2 separate regions of the Homo sapiens genome follow, and region 1 is linked to region 2. Evidence: fine-mapped expression QTL. Tissue or cell type: whole blood. Region 2 holds a variant in brackets; the other region holds the start of a gene. All regions are shown on one strand. Distances are from middle to middle.

Evidence for each region. PIP is the estimated chance that this variant, and not a neighbour inherited with it, causes the effect.
Region 1: MINDY4 starts here. The variant in region 2 is fine-mapped to the expression of MINDY4 in whole blood (TOPMed, PIP above 0.99).

The regions. Positions count from the first base shown.
Region 1 is chr7:30,769,366-30,774,508 of GRCh38, reverse strand. MINDY4 (MINDY lysine 48 deubiquitinase 4) reads right to left here and starts at 3,092. Exons shown (of 18, transcript NM_032222.3): 1 at 2,953-3,092. The coding sequence starts at 3,015. The region is part of intron 3 of INMT-MINDY4 (INMT-MINDY4 readthrough (NMD candidate)); the gene reads right to left. RefSeq lists silencers at 2,532-2,681, 3,052-3,101, 3,162-3,211 and an enhancer at 2,682-2,976.
Region 2 is chr7:30,879,304-30,884,446 of GRCh38, reverse strand. MINDY4 (MINDY lysine 48 deubiquitinase 4) reads right to left here. Exons shown (of 18, transcript NM_032222.3): 16 at 2,086-2,266; 17 at 1,454-1,526. It overlaps INMT-MINDY4 (INMT-MINDY4 readthrough (NMD candidate)), which reads right to left. Exons shown (of 20, transcript NR_037598.1): 18 at 2,086-2,266; 19 at 1,454-1,526. Among named protein-coding and RNA genes, the nearest start is that of AQP1, 30 kb to the left of the region's middle. RefSeq lists an enhancer at 1-403. The variant C/T (reference allele first, on the strand shown) is at 2,797.

The sequences.
Region 1 (5,143 bases), 110 kb after region 2:
AATAATAAACCAGTAGCTAGGGTTTGGGGGTCAAGATGGGATTCTGCAGGAGCACAACATGTGCTGATAGGAGTAACCTAGTAGAGGAGGGAAATGCATGGTGCAGGAGACAGCGACATCCCTGAGCACACAAGAGAGGGCATGCACACATGGAGGGGTGGGCCTAACCAGGGGTATGGAGAATTCATCCACAAGAACACTAAAGAGAGCAGAGTGAATGGTGCAGCCCAGGAAGGTGAGTAAGTGTGGTAGTGGGAGCCTGCTGGACTTCTCTCAAGACTTCTGTTTTCTCAGTGAAATTAGATGGGGAAGGAGCTTCAGGGTTTGAAGAGAGAGAAGGTATGAAATGGTCATCCAGGGTCTCAGAGGGTAAACAGTCTGGAGAGTTGCAACCAGGTGGGCAGGCACCCATAAGGCACCACAAGGGTGAGTGGCCATGGATTTAGAGTGATACCATCAACATAGTGGTGTGTGTTTCTCTCCAATCTCATTCAGCTCTATGGGCGCAAGTGTAGAGCAGGACGAGTGGAATTTTACTGTCAGAAGAGAATGATGAAAGGAGAGAAGCGCAAAAGAGCTGCACCTGTTATGGAGGGTGCAATTATAAGGATGGGTGGGTGAGAGGTAGGTGGGTTATGGTAGGCCCGAGGGACTGTGAAAAGTTGGCAGGAACAATGCAATATAGATGTGGTGAGGCTGGAGAAGAGTTTACGTGGGGCTATGATGGGAAACAAGCTAGAAATTTTGACAGGTGGGAAGCTTGGAATTGAGATTACAGAAAGGGCGCAGTACTGGTAACAACAAGCCCAGCTCATGACCATGGGGCAGGGTGGCAGAGGGAGGATGGCACAGTCACTGCAGGAGTGGAGCCACAGACTCAAGAAGCTGGGGCAGCAGAAGAGTCACCTCAGCAGACCCTGCCATCTCCAGGAGACTATCATGACTCCCCCGAGGGAAGACCACACTTGGTGAGTTCAAGTAGGCCAAAGTGGTTGAAGGGTAGAGGGCGGAGCAAGCAGTCATGGAAGATGAGGTCTGAGGGTAGCCAGAGCCAAGTAATGGAGAGACTTGAAGTCTAATTATGATGGGAAGCCAGTAGAGGGGTTTGAGCAGGGGAATTACATGGTCTGACCTGCTCACCCTGGGCAAGTTTCTTGGCCTCCTGGTCTCACAATAATCTTATGTGAAAGGGAATACTTATACCTATCTTTCAGGACTGTTACGAGGATCTGAGACAACAAACCAGCACCTTCTAGGTACCTGGCACCAAGGTGGCAGCTCTCTTGGTTACGACTGCTGGGTGCAATGACTGCCTGTGCAAAACCCTGTGGGGAGCACGTGGTCTCTGCCCTAGAGCAGAAGGCGATGAGAAAGCAGTATACCTGGGCTGCAGTCCCAGCTCACTGTGACCTTCTGAGTAACTGTGGGCAACTCCTTTCTACTCTTAGGGCCTTAGTGTGCCCAGATAAAACATGCGAGGGAGAGGAGACCAGGGGAACTCGGCCATGTCAAGTGGGGGGTGGTGGGGAGGGATGTGGGAGAGGCTAGAAATGAAATTGAGATGGTAAGCTGGGGTCAAGCTACAGGGCAGGCTTGGATGTCAGTGAGGACACTGGATTTCATTTGTACTCAAGAAAGAACACGAGGAAGCCCTCTCTAAGAGTTTTTTTCAGTGACCCAGACTTAAAAGAAATGATGTTAACAGTCAGCTTTCCAGGGTGTGTCAATTGATATCCAACATGCAGCCAGGACAGGTGATGGCAGGTCAATTAGCCATAAAGACAGGGCAGATGCGACAAAGCCAAACGCATTTAAAATTTTTTCAAATAAAAATAAATCATAAAAAACACACAAAGACACTTTCCAAACAGGTGCACTTCAGAGACACCTGTTTGGTGTCAGAAACAGTGAGGGTGGGAGGAGGTATAAAGTTGAACACCTACGTGCACATTGTATCTATATGTCAGATCCAATGCTTGGAAGCTGCCCATATGTTAATATTAATCCTCATTATAAATCTGCAAAGAGTAGGTCTTACTTTCCTGTTTTACAGATAACGAAATTGAGACAGTGAGTAAAGTACTGAGGTTCACACTGCAAACTAGTAGCAAATATTTGAATTGTCTCCGTCTGACTTCAAAGTCCTTCCCCTTTCCTCCATTCAAAAAATTACGTGTATGTGTTTTCATACAAGACAAGTACCCATCGCCCTAGCCCAGTATGACACTGCAAGGACAGACAAAACACACAGAGTGCAGCCCTCAGTCACCATGTGCTGAATGAGCTAATGTATGTCCCCCTCCACTACCACGCCCAAGACCCCCCGGCGAGCTCCTTCCCCACCGAGGTCCCCATCTCCACCCTGAGGCCAGATGACAGCTAAGGACCTTCCAAGCTTGTGAACACTGCAAAAACTCTCCTGGGACAAGACAATAGGAAAACTTACAAAAATTAAAGCAACCACTGGAATTCCCACTGTTGACTAAAATGACTAAGGGTTTGACCGTCAAGAACTTTTCTGGGCTTTTGGGGTTCCCTCTGGGAGAAGTTCTTTCCGAGTGGGACCCTGACTTGCGTGGGTAGCGCACGGAGGCCGGCAGCCAGGCTAGGGCGCAGGCCTGCCCGCTGTGCGCCCGCGCTAGGATTGCTTGGCGCGGCCCCCAGGCCCCCTCCCCAGCTGCCGCCGCCCCGGAGCGCGGATGCCCCAGGAGGGCAGCGGACGGGGTCCAAACCGTGCCTTGCGGAAGCGCCCGGTGACGACGGCAGAAACGCCTCGTGGGAAATGTAGTTTCCCCTGTCCCGGGAAAGCGGCGCTCTTCTGGGGCATCTCTGGAGCAGGCAGTAGGTAGGGAACGGGCGCCCTCCCAGAAGCTGCAAAGCCTTCAGGGGAGACCCCGATGATCCCCCCAAATTAGAGCCACTTCCTGGGCTTTGGAGGGGGCGAGCCGTTACCTTTCTGCTGAGGAACTCCCTGACCAAGGAGGCGGCCACCTCCTCCACGAAGAGGCTGTCCATGGCTCTGGCTCTGGCTCTGCCCACGAGGCCCACGCCGGGCCGCAGCACCAGGCAACTGGGTCTGTCCGGCGCAGTATGGCCGCGTTGCCGTGGCGACGGCGGCGTCGGCGCGGCAAGAACTCCTCCCCTTCCCTGGGGCTGGCGGGCTGGGGCGGGAGGGAAGGGGTGGAGCGTCCCGCAAACTCGCGTCTCGGAGTGGGAGGCCGCAGTCAGGGCGCCCTGGTGTCGCCTAGGGCCCCGTCCACGGCTCCGGACTCGGGGCCTCACTCTGACCCTGGCCCTGGTCATCTGAGAGGCCTAGGACAAATTACCGCTCCGCTCCGAGGCTCCATTTTCCTAGACATAAAATGGGAAGAATACCTGCCTCCTTGTTTCTGGAGGACTAAACTCACAGGGAAGTGACCCCCTCAGGTCCACCCTCAGCACCACGGCCCCCTCTGGGGCCACCAACGCTACTGACCTTGGCGGGCCTTGACGGTGGGGGCAAGGAAGCCCAGCATTCTGCTTCTTGGGCACCGAAATTAAAGGAGATGTTCCTCGCCCCCTTGGTGCCTGCTTTCCCGTAATGAGACTGCCATTTATTGATCACCAAGCTCTTAACTCACGGTTGCACTTTTAATCCTTACAACTTCCTGGCTAGGTAGTTACTGTTGGCCCCATTCTTTAAAACGGGACACTGAGATTCAGAAAGGCTAAGATTTTGCTGAGGCCCACACAGCTGGGTACTGGGAAAGTTGGGTTTCTAACCAAGCCCAGTACATTTTCCCCGAACTTAGTCACCTGGGTTCCACCTTCACAATCTTTGCCACTTCCGCATGTTACCTATTGTATTCCTTTGCTTGGGCTGCCATACAAAGTACCACAGACCATGTGGCTTAAACAACACATTTATTGTCTCCCAGTTCTGAGGGCTACAGACCAAGATCGAGGTGTCAGCTGGATGGTTTCTCCTGAGGCCTCTCTCCCTGGCCTCTATTATAGATGGCCACCTTCTCCCAGTGTCTTCACGTGGCTAGCCGTCCGTGTGTGCCTGTGTCCTAATCTCTTCTTATAAAGACATCAGTTGTATTGGAATAGGGTCCACCCTAATGACTGCATTTCCACTTCATCACCTCTTTAAAGACCCTATCCAACACAGTCACATTCTGGAATACCAGGCATTAGGACTTCAACACGGGAATTTTTTTTTCTTTTTTTTTTTTTTTTTTTGAGACAGAGTCCCGCTCAGGTGCCCGGGCTGGAATGCAGTGGCGCAATCTCGGCTCACTGCCAAGTGAACAACCACCTCCCGGATTCAAACCATTCTCCTCCCTCAGCCTCCTGAGTAGCTGGGATTTCAGGCGCCCACCACCGTGCCCAGCTAATATTTGTACTTTTAGTAGAGACGGGGTTTCACCATGTTGCCAGACTGGTCTTGAACTCCTGACCTCAGGCAGTCCGCCCACCTCGGCCTCCCAAAGTGCTGGGATTACAGGCGTGAGCCACCGCACCCGGCCCAACACAGGAGTTTTGAAAGACACAATTCAGCCCTTAACCCCTATACAGTTACTTATGTATTATTTTCTTTAAATCCACATACATGTTTTACAATTTATTTTAAAAGGAAAGTGTTCCCAAGCAGTAATAGCCACAAGATCTTGGGTTTTATGTGCTTATTAAATCTCTAATACACATTAAAACAAACACAAAACCAGAAAGGTATGCATTCACCTAAATCACCTTACAACCACCACTGGCACATGTACCACACTTGGGAAGCAACTATCTCACCCTATACAGTCTCCATAGGACGTAGCTTTAATGTGGCAGATTGCACCATAATCTCCAGGCAATTTCCCCTCTCAACGTGCAATGGTTCTTTGAGAAGCCTCTTTTGAACATGTTGTGCTATGTGAGAAAGAGCCATGTGCTCTTATATGTAGAGAGAGAAGGGCAGAGTTGCAGGAGACAGTATGATGCTTGGTCCAGGGGCCCTCATGTTCCAGCTGTGAAGACACACTGATGGATGATGTGTAATAATGAAAGAATAACATGAGACAGATTTATGCTCCATAAGAGATTGTGTATCAGGGGTCCCCAACCCCCTGGGCTGTGGACCGGTATGGGTCTGTGGCCTATTAGGAACCAG
Region 2 (5,143 bases):
TTTGAATGAGTGGCCCTTTGTACATGAAAGGAAAGCGACCTGCAGGTGCCCTTAATCCTCCCGACGAAAGAAGCACCAGCACATGACCCTGCAAGAATGCTTCATCCCTGGCTCAGGGGGCGGGCAGGTGGATGGACGAACGGATGGACGGACGGACGGACAAAGCATGTCGAGGATGTCTCGGCGCTCCTCCCATTTCCCCTTCCTGGTGTTTCCACCATGTGAACATTTCTCTTTCTCTGCAGCTCCTCTCAAGGGCTCGCTTTCCTGTGGTGGGCATCAACCCTAAGCTTGCTGTGCCCCCTGGATCTCAGGCAGTAAGCATTGCAGGGCCTCACCATTTTGCATCCCCCGTCACAACCCCAACCATTTCACAGGCAGAGAAATGGAGATTCTCTGAGATCACACCAAATCAGGAGTGGCTGAGGTCATCATCGTGAGCACAAACACCATGGAGCACTTAGTAACGTCCCAGACACTCTTCACAAGGTCCAGTGAGAAAGGTATGCATCACCCCCATTTTACAGATGACAAAGTGGGGTGCAGGAAGGTGAGGTCCAGTGGCTCACACCAAGAAGCAGCAACACCAGGGCTGGAACCCAGGCGACTTCTCTCCAGAGCCCACACTCATAAAGGTTACCAGTTCCACTGCTCCCCCAGAAGGGACCAGGATCCAGGCCTCTCCCTCCCGGGCTGCTCCTCTCATGCACGCTGAGGCCTCTGGGTCATGCCCCAAGGGCTTTGTGAAGGGCCTGCCGGGGCAAGGGGAGCACTTCTGACAGCTACCGCACCACCAGCCCAGGGGCCCACTCAGAGAACACAGCAAGGAGGTGAGCCCCAACTCACCCCAGTTACTGAACATTCCCCTCCCCTGGCCTGAGCCTCAGCCTCCCCTTAAATACAGAGGGGCTGGGTCAGAGGAGTTGAAGCTCCCACCTGCCTCTGAGGCCAGAGGCACACTGCTCAGTGTTCAGAGTGGCGGAGCTGCTCCTCCGGCTCCTCCGCAAGCAGAGGGTGTCGCTCCAGGCAGCACCTCCTGCCACCCCCAGGCTGGGCCAGGCCTCCCAGCTTCCTATCCTGCTCAAGCCTCCCCCACCCTCAGGTAAGCACCCCTGTCCTGCCTCCTTCGGGCCTAACGGTACTTGCCACATCTGGCTGCTGCTGCCTTGAGGGAGGAGGGGCTTCAAGAGGTGCCCATTTAGCCCCCACCCCCAACCATGAAGGCAGTCTCAGAAGCTGTCTAAAGACGCATCACCACTGCAGACCACACACTCCTGAACCTGGGCCCCAGTGACCACGAGTGGAGAAACCTGTGTCTTTCCAATCACCACACCTCTTTGAATCAGGGTGGTCCAGGAACCTATCTGCCTTCCTGCAGGCCTGACCACCCCCAACCATGGCTCCTCAAAGCTATTCAGGGTGAGGCTCAAAGCCAGAGAGGGGCTTGACTCACTTGGTTCTGATGCAGAGCTCGAGGGGTGGGACAAGGTCGTTGTCTGTGTCCTCAGAGATGGTTTGGGTGGTGTCTGGGAAGGAGGAGAGAGGCACACACATGTCACCCAGGGCCCTGCACTCACCCTGAGGTCAGCGCTGACCACTCCCGAGACCCGCCCCCTTCTAGTCCCTGTCCCCTCCTCTCCATCTCAACTGGACCCACCCTCATCCCTGACATCCATTCTCACCTGCACAACTCACTGGTCCCCACCCGTGTCCCACTTTAGCTACCACAATACTCTTTCTAAAAACACTTCTGATCTCACCACCCTGATTCCAAAACCTTCCATGGCTCGCCACTGCCTGAAGAATACATCCAAACTTGTCAGCATAGTATTCAGGGCTCTTTACCATGTGGTGTAGGCTTTACCCAACGCCCTTAATGCCACTCACTGCTCAAGGCCCAGCTCTGGCCGCCTCCTGCAGGGAGGCCCTGCTGGCATTGGCTCTCTGATCCCCCAGTCTGGATGCTGGAGTCTGCACTGCTCTCTGTCATGGGGGTTGGTGGTGGATAGGAAGGCTGGTTTCTGTGACCAGCCTGGAGGCTCCTTGGGGACAGGGTTGGGTGGGTGGGGGGGTGAGGGCCCGCACCAATGGTCAGCCGGATCTGCTCCTGCTGGTTGGCCAGGCCATCGTAGTAGTACAAGTCAAAGAGCCTCTCAGTCCTCCAGTCACGCAGGAGCCCCGGCTGCAGGCTAAAGAGGATGCTGAAGTGGCTCTCACTGCAAACCACCCAGATGGGGAACCTCGGGGTCTTCAGGAAGCAGCCAACCTGGATGAGGGAGAGGCCTGATGTGAAATGCCGTCCCCAGGGAAAGGGGTCCGGGCATTTTTCTGTCTGACTCAAGGCAGGGCTGACCTCAGAGAGGCCCTGCTGAAGATCACGTTTGTGTCTGATGCTGGGAGCCCCTCACGCTGCTCAGGCCACTGGGCTGTTTCCCAGGGCCATCCCTGCCCTGCCACCCCACCTGCTGCTGCTCGCAGGGCCTCTGCCATACAGACCTGAGACCCGGTATCACTCGCCCCCTCATCCCCCACATCTAATGGTTCCCAGTACTGCTCATTCTGCATCCAAGAGCTCCCCCACTGCCAGCCTTTCCTCCTGAGATCTACTCAGCCTCCAACCTGCACCACGGCAGTGACCTCCTAACCAATTCTTCCCACACCCCTCAAACAAATTCAGCTTGTCCACTAGCCTAGAGCTTGCTTACCGTTGGACAGCCTGCATCTCCCAAATCCCTTGTTGGAGCAGAAATAGTTTCCTCCTTCCAGTTCCCAGGGAGCACATCACTAGGTGCCCAC[C/T]CACCTCAGCCGCAGCACCTCTGCCTCATGCTCGACAGATCATACCCTTAAGTTCCAGGAGCCCGGGGTAAGTAAATGTCGGGTGAATGAAATTCCTCATGGATGAAGCAGGACTTGAACTAGAACTGCACGGTAAAGACAACTAGGAATGGAGCCCTGGGGAGCCAGGAGGGAAAGGTCTGAGTGAGAAGTCTGTGGGGGTGCCAGGAATGGAGGGACAGAGAAATTCAGGGTGCAGCAGGGCACTGAGGTTGCAGCAACACTTGGATAAGGAGCATTCCAAGCAGGGGAATTTCACATGGTGGAAGTGTTTGTGGAAGAAGACACAGAGGAATAAGCACCAGGGCCCTCAGCACGTTGCTAGCATCTTGACTACAATGGGAAGAGAAGTGACAAGGGCCCCCTGTGAAGCCCCTGAATGCCTGGCCTCCATGCACTTTCCCCCAGCCCCTGACACTTCTTGGCCAGCGCCTCTCCTGACCCTGGGCCCTGGTTTATCCAGCTATGTACGTGCCACGGGCCAGGCTGATTCTGGCCTAATCCCTACCAGCCCCAGGGAGATGTTTGCATGCTCAGGTATTTACAGCTACAGCCTGTGGATTAAAGAAAGAATGGGAATTATTTTTCCAGTGGGGAGAAGGGCATACTTTTTCCAGAACCCTTTACAGGAGAGTGGGTGAGCAGCTCCCATCTTGATCTGGGATGTCTCTGACAGAGGGGCTGTGCTCTGAAGGTCCTGAACCAGGTCCCCAGTGAAATTCCTGCACATTTAAAGCTGCCTCCTCCAGAAGGTAGGGGGACAGTCTTTACAACGCACTCATCCTTTCTTACGGTTCAAGTGTCCCCTCCCCCCACACCGAAGCCTCACCCCAGCCCTGTGTGCCATTGAAGTGGACTGCAGAGCTCATTCCTTAGTGAAGTGTGGGGGAATTAGATGTCTTACAGGACGTGGCTGGACGTGCCTAAACCCCACGTAAACTTGGCTTCCATTCCATGCTTCAAAGAGGCTTTTCTGGTGAGGGCATCGCCAGGAACAGGGAACCCTGACACAGGGACCCAGCATTCATTCACGGCAGGGAGAGAGTCCCAAAGCCAACCAGGGAGCAGGCCTTTGCATAATCAGCCACCCTGAATTTTCCAACGGAGAGACAAAAGTGCAGCTTGCCATGCAGAAGTAACAGTCGAGAGATTAAGGGAAAAAAGCTGCCCACAGACTTTATAAATGAGTTTCCTCATTCAGGAGCCTCTTTCCAAGTGGGTGACATTTTCCAGAGATGAAATTCACTTCCTTTAAATTCTTGGGTAACCAAAGGCTTGGGGCAAGGCCGCAGTCGGGGGTGGGGGGGGGTGCGGGGGAGGGCCACATTTCCTACAGCACAGTCTGGGACTTTGTCCTGGTGGGGGAACATGTAGCACAATTAGGGATTACTTAATCTTCTAGGGCGGGGGTTGTGAATGGCCTAAAGCCATCCATGGACAGCCAGGTTAGAAGCACTCACTTCAAAGGGTCAGCATTTACTTGCGTAGAGTTATGGTGTGGCATTTCTAAGGAACAGCAATGGGGACATAGTGCTAGAGACAATAAGAACAGTGCTGTCCTTATGGAGCTTACCAGATTGATGGGGATGACACATTAATTAAATAATCAAACCCACACATTTCCACTGCACTTCAGTGAATCCAGGATGCCCTCAGATTCGCCATTATTTTTTGTATCACTAAGTAAGAAAAAGCAGGTGTGTCAAAGTCTGACACACCATCAACTGTAACAATGCATCAGAATTTCAGAAGTGCTCAAATGTGGGCAAGTTTGCATCTTAAAGGCGATGAAATGCGATGCTTAAAATCCAGAGGAGGCCCTATGAAGGAAAGAATTAAGATACCCTGATGGTGATTGACAAGGTATGGAGGGGACAATGAGAAGGACCCCCTACTTAGATGGGGTTATGAGGGCAGGAAAGGCTGCCTTTTAGGAAGTAACGTTTAAGTCAAAACGATAACAGGGAAAAGCTGGGCAGGTGGAGGGTGCAGCGTGCACAAAGGCCAGGAGGTGGGAGAGAGCCCGAGAGAAGCCCCAGCCTGCGGGAGAGAGTGGTGCGGGCTGAGGTGGGAGAGGAAGGCAGGTGCAGGTCTGGCAGGGCATTGGGGGTGGTGAGAAGTTTTGGATTTTAGTTTCTGCATTAGTCTGCTCGGGCTGCCATAACAAATACCACGGACTGGATGGCTCAGACAGCAGACATTTATTATCTCAGAGTTCCGGAAGCTGGAGGTCTGAGATGTCACTAGGGTTGTTTCTGAAGGCCGTGCCCCTGAGCTTGTAGATGGTTGCCTTCTCCGTACCTTCAGA